4 linked regions of the Homo sapiens genome follow. The protein of the gene in region 1 purifies or fractionates together with the protein of each later gene. This does not show direct contact. Each region holds a gene or a part of one and is shown in the gene's direction. Other genes may lie near its edges.

What was found. Proteins that work in one complex are often made in the same cells at the same time.
Region 2: the proteins of C10orf88 (region 1) and DCAF6 purify together in Homo sapiens (co-immunoprecipitation; 3 studies listed by BioGRID and IntAct, with this or other methods). This does not show direct contact.
Region 3: the proteins of C10orf88 (region 1) and NUP155 purify together in Homo sapiens (affinity purification with mass spectrometry; one large-scale study listed by BioGRID and IntAct). This does not show direct contact.
Region 4: the proteins of C10orf88 (region 1) and GTSE1 purify together in Homo sapiens (affinity purification with mass spectrometry; one large-scale study listed by BioGRID and IntAct). This does not show direct contact.

Annotation. Positions count from the first base shown.
Region 1 is NC_000010.11:122,937,228-122,940,727, reverse strand, and holds part of C10orf88 (ATPase PAAT), read left to right. Parts: intron 1-2,568; coding exon 2,569-3,023; intron 3,024-3,500. UniProt on the Homo sapiens protein: ATPase that regulates mitochondrial ABC transporters ABCB7, ABCB8/MITOSUR and ABCB10. Regulates mitochondrial ferric concentration and heme biosynthesis and plays a role in the maintenance of mitochondrial homeostasis and cell survival.
Region 2 is NC_000001.11:168,044,683-168,048,182, forward strand, and holds part of DCAF6 (DDB1- and CUL4-associated factor 6), read left to right. Parts: intron 1-217; coding exon 218-545; intron 546-3,500. UniProt on the Homo sapiens protein: Ligand-dependent coactivator of nuclear receptors. Enhance transcriptional activity of the nuclear receptors NR3C1 and AR. May function as a substrate receptor for CUL4-DDB1 E3 ubiquitin-protein ligase complex.
Region 3 is NC_000005.10:37,361,107-37,364,606, reverse strand, and holds part of NUP155 (nuclear pore complex protein Nup155), read left to right. Parts: intron 1-222; coding exon 223-360; intron 361-622; coding exon 623-719; intron 720-3,500.
Region 4 is NC_000022.11:46,303,370-46,306,869, forward strand, and holds part of GTSE1 (G2 and S phase-expressed protein 1), read left to right. Parts: intron 1-3,500. UniProt on the Homo sapiens protein: May be involved in p53-induced cell cycle arrest in G2/M phase by interfering with microtubule rearrangements that are required to enter mitosis. Overexpression delays G2/M phase progression.

The DNA of each region.
Region 1 (3,500 bases):
CACATAAAGAGAAATAAAGGATTAGCTACCAGGCACCTGAGATTTCTTCATTTCCTATAGTGGCATGTAGACATATCTGAATTTCTTGATATTTATTCCAAAGAGAAAAGATCATCTAAAGAGCTCTCATCTCAGAAAATGTGACCTTTTTTAAATTGTGGTAAGAATACTTAACATGAGATCTACCCTCTTAACAAATTTTTAAATGTACAATATGGTGTTGTTAACTATAGACACTGTTGTACAGAAGATCTCTAAAACAGATTCATCTTGTAAAGCTGTAACTTTATACCTATTGAATAGCAATTCATTTCTCCTTCCCCCCATCTCCTAGCAACCACCATTCTACTCTCTGTTTCTGAGTTTAACTATTTTAGATATGTCATGTTAATGGAATCATCCATTATTTATTCTTCTGTGCCTGGCTTATTTCACTTAGCATGTCTTCCAGATTGATCATATTGTCACATGACAAAATATCCTTCTTCTCAAAGGCTGAATGGTATTTCATTGTATGATATTCATTCAATGATATTTCATTTCATTTTCTTTATCAATACATCAGTCAATGGACATTTAGGTTGTTTCTGTATCTTGGCGGTTGTGAGTACTGCTGCAGTGAACATGGGAGTGCAGATAATCTTTTTGAGATCCCAGTTTCAGTTATTTTGGATATATGCCCAGAAGTGGGATTGTTAGATCATATGGTAGTTCTATTTTTAATTTTTTGAGGAGCCTCCATACTGTTTTTCATCACTGCTATACTATTTTACATTCTTAACCAATGACTAATTTTCATAATCAGTGAATTCTTATAAACAGAATATTATATGTCAGAAAGGAAAAATTTACATAGCAAATACCTTTACATTTAGATTTTTCTGTTTAAATGTTCTGCCTACTTAATGTTCACCCATACTTTTGACATTGACTGTAGTGTAAATATTATTACTCTTAATGTAGTTTTCCACTGTACATTTTGTTTTGAAATGTCATAGAGAAATAAATGGGCTTTCCTGTTATGACTGAGTAACTTTCTTTGAGCTTATGGGGAGTTGTCCAATGTTAACATTTTATAAATATAATTTTACATAATTCATCTTATTCCAGGAATATTTAAATATTCAAGTTTATTCAAAACTTGCATTTTATAAAACAAGATAAACTTACAGTAGGTTAACATTTCTCTATAAAGAGCACTTTTCCAAAGTGCAGTTTGGTAAAAAGTTAGATGGGGACATGACATTACAAATCTTCCCCCAGCTTCCCTGGCCCTTATTATTCTCCTTTCTCACTTTATTTTTCCCTAAAGTATTTATCACCATCTCCATTTCATGATACATTTTTTCCTTTCTTTTCTTTTCTTGACTTTTTTCTCTTCTTCCTTCTTCACTTCTTTTCTCTTTCCCTTACTTTCTCTTTTTCTTTTCTTTCCCCTTTTTCCTTCTTTTCTTTTGTAGTTTGTGTCTCCTTGCTCCCCTGTCATATAGGCTCTGTGAGGTCAGGGATTTTAATTTATTTTGTTCGCTGCTGTATTTCCAGTGCTTGAAACAATACTAGCACAGAGTAGATTCCTGGTAAATATTTGTTGAATAAATTAATGTTGTTCCGGCTTAGTCTAGTAATAACTTTTTAGAATATCTATAAGTATATGAACTGAGTTTCTTCAGCTAATTTACATATTGCTTTTTCAGTCTGTTTCACCAGCTGTTGAACAGCAATAAGTGTGGGATGATAACCCCTGATAAGAATCTATAGTAGACTTTTATGTTTTGAATTTAGAGTGGAGCCATATGCCTTAAGACTTAGGCTAGAGATATTTTCTTTTATCCAATGGAAAAATTAAAGAGCATAAAAGGGAGATACTGTAATCATCCCTTCAAGGTAAGCCAGAATCTTCTCAGGAAATAATACTGCATAACCAGTTGAATTGAGGCTGCAAAACAACTCTCATTATCCTGGAAATTCTTAGAGCAAACACAGCCAGAAGTAGCTAATTTCAGTCATTGAAAATGTCACAAATGTACCCATAGAGCATCTAACTTTAAATAGCATACCTATCTGTGTAGTTTCCAGGAAAAATTCATTGCAAAAGATATTACTAGATGAAAGTGAGTAACTTACCGTATTTTGACAGTTGGGAATGATATAATTGAATTTTAAGAAACTTACCGGTTCTTGTGACTCAGTTGAGAGTAGTACATTTTATTATCATAAAGAGACATTTGTAGTGGAAACATTAGTGTCAGTGCAGTTTGACTATTCATGCTAGTATTTATTTAATTTCTTTTGGGAAAAACTACAATGAAATGATTGAAAGTCATGACTGTGGAGTTAAGTGACCTGCGTTCATGTTCCAGTTCTGCCACTTACTGGCTGGTTACCTTGGCTAGGTACCTTTAGCCTTGGTCTCCTCAGCTTAATATTGGGATAGTATTAGTGGCCTACTTTATAAGGATGTTTTGAGGATTGGATGAAACAATGCACAGTGCCTGACTCATAGTAATTACTCCAAAAGTTAGCTGTCAGTGTTATTAATATTAACATTTACTTGTTTACCTTGTTTAGAATTGTATTCCCATTGGAGAGCAGCTTCAGTCGGTGTTGGGCAATTCTGGATACAAGCATATGATTGGACTACAATCCTCATCTACCTTAGGAACCTTAAACAAGTCGTCCTCCACACCTTTTCCTTTTAGAACTGGATTGACATCTGGGAACGTGACTGAAAACTTACAAACTTACATTGATAAAAGTACACAACTGCCTGGTGGAGAGAATTCTACCAAGCTTGATGAGTGTAAAGTTATGCCTCAAAACCATTCCTTTCTTGAAAATGATCTTAAAAATGCAATGGCCTCTTTCTTACCAAAGAAAGTAAGTGACAACTCAAATATACCCAACTCCGAGTTGCTGCCTTTTCTCCAGAATTTATGTAGTCAAGTTAATCATCTCCATGTGGGAAATAAGACCGAGTGTCAGGAAAACATCACCAAGCATGGTGAACGCATTCTTGGTGTTGGGTAAGTATTATTTTAAGACATACGAGTTTCGATTTGGTAGGTGGAAGAATCAGATGAAAGGAAACAGATTTGTCTCAATGAGTACTGCCTAAAATTTGTTTCCAGAGAAAATTTTAGCAACTTTTACATTTTACCATTAATACACTTAAAGGGGATAACTGCAGAGTAGAATGGATTACTTTGAAAGAAGTCCCTATAACTGGAGGTTTTGCACACTTCCCAGGCATTTTGTGGAAGGGTCACAAGTATTAGTTCACAGTTGGAATAGAAAGTGATTTGCATGAATGGAAAGGAGCTGTGGGAATTATAATCTTTATGTTGTTTTTATATATTTGTACTATTTTGTGCCTGGGTATGTTAAGCATGTCATTGTGACATTTTCCTTGAAGATTATGTTTGGTCTAGGCAAATTCCTGATTATTAAAAAACTATATTAGGATAATAATCACTTGTAGTTTACAAGCTATTATCCCCAGT
Region 2 (3,500 bases), on another chromosome or scaffold:
CCTTTAGATAATTGCTTTGTATGGGAAAATAAAAAGCCTTAATCTATGTTAATCTCTCTATAGTTAGAGGCCATGTTCAAGTGTATTGTGGAAGTTTCCTCCCCTTATAGAGGAATTAGACATCATATTAGAATGTGTTTGTGAGCTCCTAAGTTAGGTTAAATAATTAGTATTGCCCACATTACCACCTGTTACATACAACTTTATTTTCTGACAGCACAATCAGATAAGTTCACAGCCAAGCCATTGGATTCCAACTCAGGAGAAAGAAATGACCTCAATCTTGATCGCTCTTGTGGGGTTCCAGAAGAATCTGCTTCATCTGAAAAAGCCAAGGAACCAGAAACTTCAGATCAGACTAGCACTGAGAGTGCTACCAATGAAAATAACACCAATCCTGAGCCTCAGTTCCAAACAGAAGCCACTGGGCCTTCAGCTCATGAAGAAACATCCACCAGGGACTCTGCTCTTCAGGACACAGATGACAGTGATGATGACCCAGTCCTGATCCCAGGTGCAAGGTATCGAGCAGGACCTGGTGATAGGTTGGTAAATTTTTAATTAACATGAACTGTAAAAAATGTATTTCACAAGGATTTGTTTGAAGTCATTGAAGGGAATCTCTCCATTTTTGACAGTTGCTTCCTCTAAGAGTGTCTCATTCATATAAACTTAAAGAAACTTTACAGTTTACTGTAAATGATTTTACGTATTATATTCTTTGAGCACTGTGCATTAATAGGGAAATAAAAAGTCTTCATTCTCCATATCTCTAGCACTGAGGCTTGCTTCTGAATTTACAGATCAAGAGAAAAGAATGTTAAGAATGACCCACAGGTTATTTATGAAGTCAAGGTTATACTTAGCTCTCAGATTATCTTGTAGATATCCAGGCCTTTATCAGTGTTGTTTTGGTTTTAATGTTAATTTTTTCTGCTTTTCTATTGACCCTGGATTAAGGTAGTGTGTTAGTAGTTCTGTTTTTGGGAACACTGTTTTTCTTTGATTTCTACTAAACTTAGTGACTGAATTTAGAAAATGAAAAATTATACCAAATAAATACCATAGCAGCAATAAAAAATTGAATTGCCAACATGTTTTTATAGTTTTTCTATATTTTATGTGATCACAAGGATATATTTTCTTTTGTGGGAGTTAAAATAAATTTTTAAAGTATACTGCATTTCATACTCATGGAAAACTATTTCTATTATTAGTGCTATCATATCTTATTGTAAGTTCTGTCCTCTTTCAGAGAACCTAGTTTTAATCTTAAAATCCTAGTTTACAAAGGAGTGAGATTCTATTTGAAATATTTCACATTTTATATGCTCAATATATTGCTGTTTATAAGATACCCTAAAGTATCTGTCAACTGAAAAATATAATGAAAGATTAATTTACCACTCATAGTCAAGAGCATGATGATGGGTTTGAATACTGGTTTCACCACTTACCAGCAGTGTTTTTTCATTCAAATTACTTAATGACTCTTAAAGATTCAGTTTCTTATCTATAAAATAGGGTTATGATTATCTAAAATTATTGTAAGAATTTTAAAAAAATCTATCAGTCAATCATGATGTGACCTGGCTCATGTTAATAGCACTAATTAAATGATAGCTGTATTAAACAATCAAGATAGTCTATGAGGCCACTTTAATTTTTAAAAGAATTACAGTAAGAATGACTCTAGGGATAAAGACTGAAAGAAGACAGGCAAAAATCCTGAAGAGGATAGCTTGCAGCTCAGGGGAACTGCCTTTTCTTAACTATGAAAGGGTATGTTTCTTTCTTTAGTCATATTTGGGAAATGTTTACTTTGCCATGGCACTTTTTTTGTAGATATGAAGCAAGAATTTCCCATGTTTATACTTAGAGATTAATCAAACATCTTCTCTTTACCTGTACACAGTAATCTTGAGCATTCTTAGTATATATTTTAGGCAAGTAAGACTTAGTTCTATTTCTTTCCATACCCAGAGGGAGTTCCTTAGAATGTCATTACCACTTAATTTATGCAGATGAGGTTAGCAAGCTTAGCACAATTTGAAAATCAAACTGATAATTTCCAAAATCAAACTGATAATTTCCAAAACCCAGGGTTGAGAGCTAGATTCTATAATTAAGCTTGTACATTTATGGCCTTCCATTTATATAAATGAGCTAATGTCTTATTTTTCTACATTTAAGTAGTAGAACATGATACGGAGGTCATAATTGAAAATTAAATTTAAGTGCCCAGTTTCTAGTAATGTTTTTAATGGATATTAGACACTTTGAGAAAGTCATAACTATTTAGCAGCTTCTATGCAGGCTAATTATAACACTTAATACCAAGCCTGCTTTATAGCTGAGGAAACTTAGGTGCTAAGCAAAGGGTTTTGTATATTCTAGAGCTAAGGAGTTTTGTTTTTTGAAACACAGTACTATAACATTAATGAGAAAGGAGGATTTGAGGGAGGGTGGGTCCTAGAGAATACAGAAACTGTAATCTTTCTATAGATCTTTATCATCTTCATAATACTTAGATGATTTATATGTTTTAGGGATTCTTTTAGCATTTAGATCTGTCACAAAGTTGGTTCCCAATAGCCTCATTGACCCAAGGAAACCCAGATGCTGAACTAGACTAGCAGAATCTTTTAGAAGAGAGATAATCAGTGACAACAAACAGCCTGGAACTGATCCCACTTCATGCATATACTCTTGAATTCATACTTTCATGGTTAAATCCAGATTTGAAACCACTCTGGGATCACATTTAGTTCCCTGCTTTTTAAAAATTAAATATTATTTAATATTCTGTACACTCATTTGAGTATTTAGCCTATGTTGGTCCTACATGGTATTTTGTTTTGTAAGATATAGTAGTAAACTTCCTGAAGAGTAACAGAAGAACGATAAAATTCTTATCCTTCAAGAAACTTAATTATTTATGAATAAGAGAGAATACCGAAGCCATTTATAGGAACATAGAAAACATTTAATATATGAAAGTAAATACAATTATATATATATGTGTGTGTGTGTATATATATATAAAAGATGTGTATACTGAGGTAATTAGAAAGTGATTAGAGTAACAATTACATTAATTTTCCTTTGAGATTTGCATTATTTTCTAGCTCTTTACCAAAAATTTGTAAATGGTGTAAATATTTCCTCTGACTTTTATCTAAATCGGTTATTATAATTCTTAACTTTTTTGGCACCATCCTGATTTAATCTTGAACAACTGTAAAAAAGTATACTTTTAATATTTCTGCACCTTTCTAAGGGCTCTTCATCATTGACACTCCTGCCAGTTTATCTTACTTCTCAATTTAGCTGACTTTTATTCTAAAGAGAGAAAGTTTAAGAGATTTTGCTTCTTAAGAACATGAAAAGAATCACTTACCAGCTTGTAATTAGTCCTATGATTTTGGAGAGTTTCTGTTTCCCAAGAGACTAAGGGTTGTGAAGCTCTGTTGTAACAATCATACCATTTGGTTCCTAGA
Region 3 (3,500 bases), on another chromosome or scaffold:
AAGTTTTTTGAGATATGACTTTCCCTTTAGGCCTGAAACCAGTAACTGTTCCTACCTTCACAAGGGAATATTTCAGGACTACTTTGTGTTGGGTCAAAACTAGAATATTCTCTCTGTACCTTTGGAACCAACACACAACAATTTTTTTGTGGCACTCAATCCTTTTGTTTGCCCGGTTGATGAGCAGTACATTATTATAAATACTTCATTTTCTTTTTGTAGATAATCCCACCGTTTCTGGCATGTCAGATATGGATTATCCTTTGCAAGGACCTGGTTTGCTGTCCGTACCCAACCTTCCAGAGATCAGTTCCATCCGAAGAGTTCCTCTCCCACCTGAACTTGTTGAGCAGTTTGGACGTATCCTATTACTTTGTATTTATTTTAAAAATGTTAAAATTGGTATTTTTCATTCTTATAATTCTTGTTCTATGTTTAATTAATGTGTTATATATTCATTTAAGGGTTTTATTTAAAATTCGTTTAAGTATATGGGTTCCATGTTGTATTAAAGAGTGGACACATTGTGATTTTTTACGTAAATATTAAGTCAAAAGCTATTGAAACAAGTTAAAGAAGAATAAGATTCACCTCTGTCTGCCTTACATCCACACTACCTCAGATATGCAGTGTAATTGCATGATGGGTGTGTTCCCTCCTATCAGCAGAGCTTGGCTCACAATTGACAGTGATATATTCATGTGGAACTATGAGGATGGGTATGTATTTAAGGCTGGTTTGCTTTAAGGGTGATTGGAATTTATATAAACTTTACTGTAGCTAGTGTTCTCATTAGAAGCTGCTTGGTTTATCTTTCATTCATCTAGCCTTTGGGTCAGTGCTTCTCAGTATCAGTCATCTGGAGATGTTCAAATGTGCATTCTGTCTTAGTAGTCCTGAGTGAGGCTCAAGAGTCTGCATTTCTAACAAGCTGCCAACTGCTGCTGCTGGTTTAGGTGCCATTCTTGAGTGGCAGGAGCCCGGGTCCCAAGCTGTTAGCCCGTAGTAAAAATAGATGTTGGCAATTCATTGAGAGATGATTGGACATTTTTAAAGACTTCTGTTTTCCTTGCATTTCTATGGAGTAGGCATGTGATATTTATTTATTTTGTTGTCATTTTGTGAATTTGACCCGTGTGTAAATTATATGTATAGAAATGATTCTGAGTGAAAGCCTAAGGTACTTTTGCTTAAATACAGCATGTTGGTCTGGTGATCTCCCTGTTGACTTTTTAGAGATAGATTTTGTTTTACTTCCAGTTGTCCATTACATTATCCTTAGATGAGGTGTGGGATAAACATAGGAAAGCCCATATAATTAAGATGTTACTCTTGTTCCTGAGTAATTAATGATCTTTTTAGGAACACACGTGCATTAAAAAGACACTGTATCGGCCGAGCACGCTGACTCAAACGCCTATAATCCCAGCACTTTGGGAGGCTGAGGTGGGTGGATCACCTGAGGTCAGGAGTCCGAGACCAGCCTGGCCAACATGGAGAAACCCTGTCTCTACTAAAAATACAAAAATTAGCCAAGTGTGGTGGCACATGCCTGTAGTCCCAGCCACTCGGGAGCTGAGGCAGGAGAATTGCTTGAACCTGGGAGATGGAGGTTGCAGTGAGCTGAGATAGTGCCACTGCACTCCAGCCTGAGTGACAGAGCGAGACTCCATCTCAGAAACAACAACAACAAAACACTGTATTATTGAAACAAAATTGAAACTAAATGACAGCTTAACACCTATAGCTTAAACGAAACCATTTTTTTCTACTAGAAGTTTCGTAGCAATTTTTCATGTTGAAATGTAATAGTTGTAATAGCAGTGATGTATGATTGTGATTATTTTTCATGTACCCTGAATGTTCCCCACTTTGTTATGTTACCATAACATATTCATTTTTATACTAAATAATGAAACCTTTTTTGTTTAGGTATGTATCTTTTCAAGAGAAGTCATTGCAAAAATATTACAGAACAGATAAATGTGAGAATAATTGTTTTCTTTAAAATATGTTTTCGGCTGGGCATGGTGGCTCATGCCTGTAATCCCAGCACTTTAGGAGGCCAAGGCAGGCAGATCACCTGCAGTCGGGAGTTCGAGACCAGCCTGACCAACATGGAGAAAGCCCATCTCTACTAAAAATACAAAATTAGCCTGGCATGGTGGCACATGCCTGTAATCGCAGCTACTCGGGAGGCTGAGGCAGGAGAATCACTTGAACCTGGGAGGCGGAGGTTGTGGTGAGCCGAGATCGCGCCATTGCACTCCAGCCTGGGCAACAAGAGGGAAAACTCCATCTCAAAAAAAAAAAAACACTAATGAAATTTTTTACATTTCCATTAACATCCAACATATTTATTTAACACATACATATTGATCTTATGTATCTGACACTGTTGTTGTGGTAGGAACAGTACTGAATGAGATGAATGTAGTTCTGCCCTCATGGAACAAACAGTCCTACCTTACTGTGTGTCTTAGTCCGAGCTGCTAAAACAGAATACCATAGCCTGTGATCAACATGAATTTCTTTCTCATGGTTCTGGAAGCTGGAAGTCCAAGATCAAGGTCTGGTGAAAGCCCACTTCAATGTTCATAGATGGCTATCTTTTCACTCTGTCCTCACATGGCAGAGGGGTAGGGGAGTTCTTTGGGTCCTCTTTTATAAGGGCACTAATCCCATTCATGAGATATACCCTCATGACCTAATAACCTTTCAAAGACCCCACCTACAAATACTATCACATTAAGAGTTAGGATTTAATATGAATTTTAGGAGGACACAGATATTTGATCCATAGCAGTGTGTGTTCATTTAAAGAAAAATTATTTGAAGAATGTACTTATTTTAAAAAATCAAGGCACAAGGTCCACAAATTCAATTTTGTAAAATTTATACTTAGTTTAAATATTCAATTGGCTTTCTATTATAAATCCTAATTCCACCTGGATGATAAAAATGTAATCTTGGTCATTTCATTGTTCTCTAACCCCCAAATATCTCAGCATTGGATCGTAGTTCCAAGAGGCTGTGCCAGTTATCAAAGGGCCCTGTGGAATGGCATGATGTAAGAGGATGGGGAATCCTAGTCCGCATAAGTTGCCATTTAGCTATTTTGTTCCTGTGTGGATGGCCTTTTCAGGATGACTGGAAGCTTTCTTGAAAGTCTAGATCATATTTTTTCGTGGTATTTTTTCTGCTTCTTGTTCTCTGAGCTTCTTAGATCTTTAGTTTGATGTCTTCTATTATTTTTAGAATTTTTTTCAGCTGTTATCTTTATTTCTCTCTCTCTCTCTCCTTTTCTGTTCAGCCATTGTCTTTTTTTTTTTTTTTTTTTTGAGACAGAGTCTCGCTCTGTCGCCCAGGCTGGAGTGCAGTGGACTATCTTGGTTCACTGCAACCTCCACCTCCTGGGTTCAAGCACTTCTTGCCTCAGCCTCTGGAGTAGCTGGGACTACAGGTATGGGCCACCACACCTGGCTAATTTTTGTATTGTT
Region 4 (3,500 bases), on another chromosome or scaffold:
AAAGCTGTTGATTGCTCTGTAATGATTTTGTCCTTAGCCATGTTCTTTTATCCTTTTACTACTTATAGTAGTTTCCAGTTGATCTTCTTGATTTGTTTCTCGTGTCTATAATCATGGCATCTGTGCAGTGTGATCATGTTACCTCCACATTCCTTCCTTTGCCTGACTGTGTTGCTTTATGTGTCCAGAACAGTGTTAAGAATTGTGCTTGGAGATGTCATTGCCACGTGCCTGGCTTTAATGGAATTGCTTCTGTGGTTTTTCATTAAGTCCGATACTGGGTTATGGGTTAATTTCCAAGTAAATGGTAGTCGTAGGTGTGCTATTCATGAGCATTTCTATGTGTTTGTCTTCTGGGCATGTAATAGAATTGTACTCCCTGTTCACTTGAAATTCAGTTGGCTCTGGTGACTCACTTGGCCAGTGAAATGGGAATGTTGTCGTGTGTGTCATTTCTGGGTGGAAATCTTCAAGAACCAGTGTGGAATTGGTTCTTTTCCTTCCTGCCATGGAGACGAGCGGTGTTCCTGATGGTGGAGGCTCCATCAGTTGGGGTCCTGGAGTGAGGAGGCCAGGGAGCAGGGCCCCAGCCTACCCCTCTGCAGACATATAGTTTGAGTGAGAAATATACCTTTGTGGTTTTTGGTTTGTTTTGAGACAGTGTCTCTTGCTCTATTGCCCAGGATGGAGTGCAGTGGCTTGATCATAGCTCACTGCAGCCGCAAGCTCCTGGGCTCAGCATCCTGAGTAGCTGGGACTACAGGTATATGGCACCATACCCCGCTCATTTTTTTTTTTCTTTTTGTAGAGCTGGGGTCTCGCTATGTTGCGAGGGCTGGCCTTGAACCCCTGGGCCTCAAGTGATCCTCCTTGGCCTCCCATAGTGCTGGGATTACAGGCACAGGCCACCATACCTGGCCTACCTTTGTTGTTTTAAGGGTTGTTACTTCAGCATGTTAGCCTATCCTAACTGGTAAGATCAATTTGTTCCTGTCTTTAGAAGGAATACTTCTGACGTTATCCCACTGAACCTAATGCTGGCTTTGGGTTGAGATGGGGATTTCCTTATATATCTATTACTTTTTATTAAGAGCCTCTAAAATCAAGAATGTATGTTGTATTTTATCATATGCCCGTTCAACATATGTGCAGACGATCATGGTTTTCTCTTTAGCTCTAGTAATAAAATGATTATATGAGTAGATTGTATGAAATGAAACCATCTCACAGTCATGAAATGCAGGGAGCTTGGTTGTGTTATGTTATTACCACTTTAATGTTTGCAGGATTCTTTTTGCTGGTATTCTTGTTAAAGAGTTTGATGTTAGGCCAGGTGTGGTAGCTCATACCTGTAATCCCAGCACTTTGGGAGGCCAAGGTAGGAGGAATGCTTGTTCCCAGCAGTTTGAGACCAGCCTGGGCAACATGAGGAGATCCCATCTCTACAAAAAATACAAATATTAGCCAGGGATGGTTGTGCGTGCCTGTAGTCCCAGCTACTCGGGAAGCCGAGACAGGAGGATCCCTCGAGTCCAGGAGTTCGAGGCTGCAGTGAGCTATGATTGTACCACTGTACTCCAGCCTGGGTGACAGAGCGAGACCCTGTCTCAAAAAAAGAAAAAGGATTATTATGCTGATGTAAGTAAGGCTGGTCTTTACTTTCTTTATTGATCACTTTCTAGGTTTTTTGGTAACATACTTACTTGCCTCGTGGAAGTAAGTTGGAAAGTTTTTTTTCTTTTAATCCTCTGGAGTGATGTAAATAGTATTGGAATTATTTGTTCTTTAATGTTTTGATACAATTATCCTATGAATCTAGTTGGGACGCTTTTTTGAAGAGGATAGCTCTTTAATAAATTTCACCAGTTATTTTATGATTATTGAAGTATTAAGATTTTCCCTGTCTTCTGGAGTCAGTTTTATAAATAAGTACATTTAGACAATTTAAATAAAAAATAGACTGGATGCGGTGGCTCACGCCTGTAATCCCAGCACTTTGGAAGGCCGAGATGGAGGGATCACGAGGTCAGGAGATCGAGACCATCCTGGCTAACATTGTGAAACCCCGTCTCTACTAGAAATACAAAAAATTAGCTGGGCGTGGTAGCACGTGCCTGTAATCCCAGCTACTCGGGAGGCTGAGGCAGGAAAATCGCTGGAACCTGGGAAGCAGAGGTTGTAGTGAGCCAAGATCACACCACTGCACTCCAGCCTGAGTGACAGAGTGAGACTCCATCTCAAAAAAATAAAAAGAATATACCAAGTGCAGTGGCTCACGCCTGTAATCCCAGCACTTTGGGAGGCTGAGGCAGGTGGAACACAAGGTCAGGAATTTGAGACCAGCCTGGCCAACATGGTGAAACCGCATCTCTACTAAAAATACGAAAATTAGCCCGGTGTGGTGGCGCGCGCCTGTAATCCCAGCTACTCAGGAGGCTGAGGCAGAAGAATCTCTTGAACCTGGGAGGCGGAGGTTGCAGTGAGCCAAGATCACCCCACTGCACTCCAGCCTGGGCAACAGAGTGAGACTCCATCTCAAAAAAAAAAGAATAAATAAAATTATATTTTCCTAGAAAATTATCTCTTTCAGCCAAGTTCTTAGGTTTATGTGCATGAAGTTGACAGATGTGCTTATGGATCTTTTCATTCCCTCTCTGTGTGGTTATTTCTCTTTTCTTTCTTTTGTGCATTTGTTCTGACTTCTCCTTGATTAGGTAATTAAGAATAATTGATTAATCAGGACCAAATTAGGATATTAGTATATTTTCAAATTTTATGATTTTTGAGAAGCATGCTGTGTTGTTATTTTTATTTATTTATTTATTTTTTTGAGACAGAGTCTCACTCAGTCACCCAGGCTGGAGTGCAGTGGCGCGATCTCTGCTCACTGCAAGCTCCGCCTCCCAGGTTCACGCCATTCTCCTGCCTCAGCCTCCCGAGTAGCTGGGACTACAGGCACCTGCCACCACGCCCGGCTAATTTTTTGCATTTTTTGTAGAGACAGGGTTTCACCATGTTAGCCAGGATGGTCTTGATCTCCTGACCTCGTGATCCGCCCGCCTCGGCCTCCCAAAGTGCTGGGATTACAGGCGTGAGCCATTGCGCCCAGCCTGTTTTGTTTTGTTTTCTGAGACAGAGTCTTGCTGTGTCACCCAGGCTGGAGTGCAGTGGCGCAATCTTGGTTCATTGCAACATCTACCTCCGAGGTTCAAGCAATTCTCCTGCCTCAGCCTCCCCAGTAGCTGGGATTACAGGTGCACACCACCACGCTCGGCTAATTTTTTTATTCTTTATTTTTGGTAGAGATGGGATTTTGCCACGTTGGCCAGGCTGATCTCGAACTCCTGACCACAAATCATCTGCCTGCCTCAGCCTCCCAAAGTGCTGGGATTACAGGTGTGAGCCACCTTGCCCGGCCTTCATTGTTTATTAAGATAAAAACATTTATGGGAGAGCTTTATAAGCTTTACAGTATTGAGCAAATACTGTATTTCAGTGCA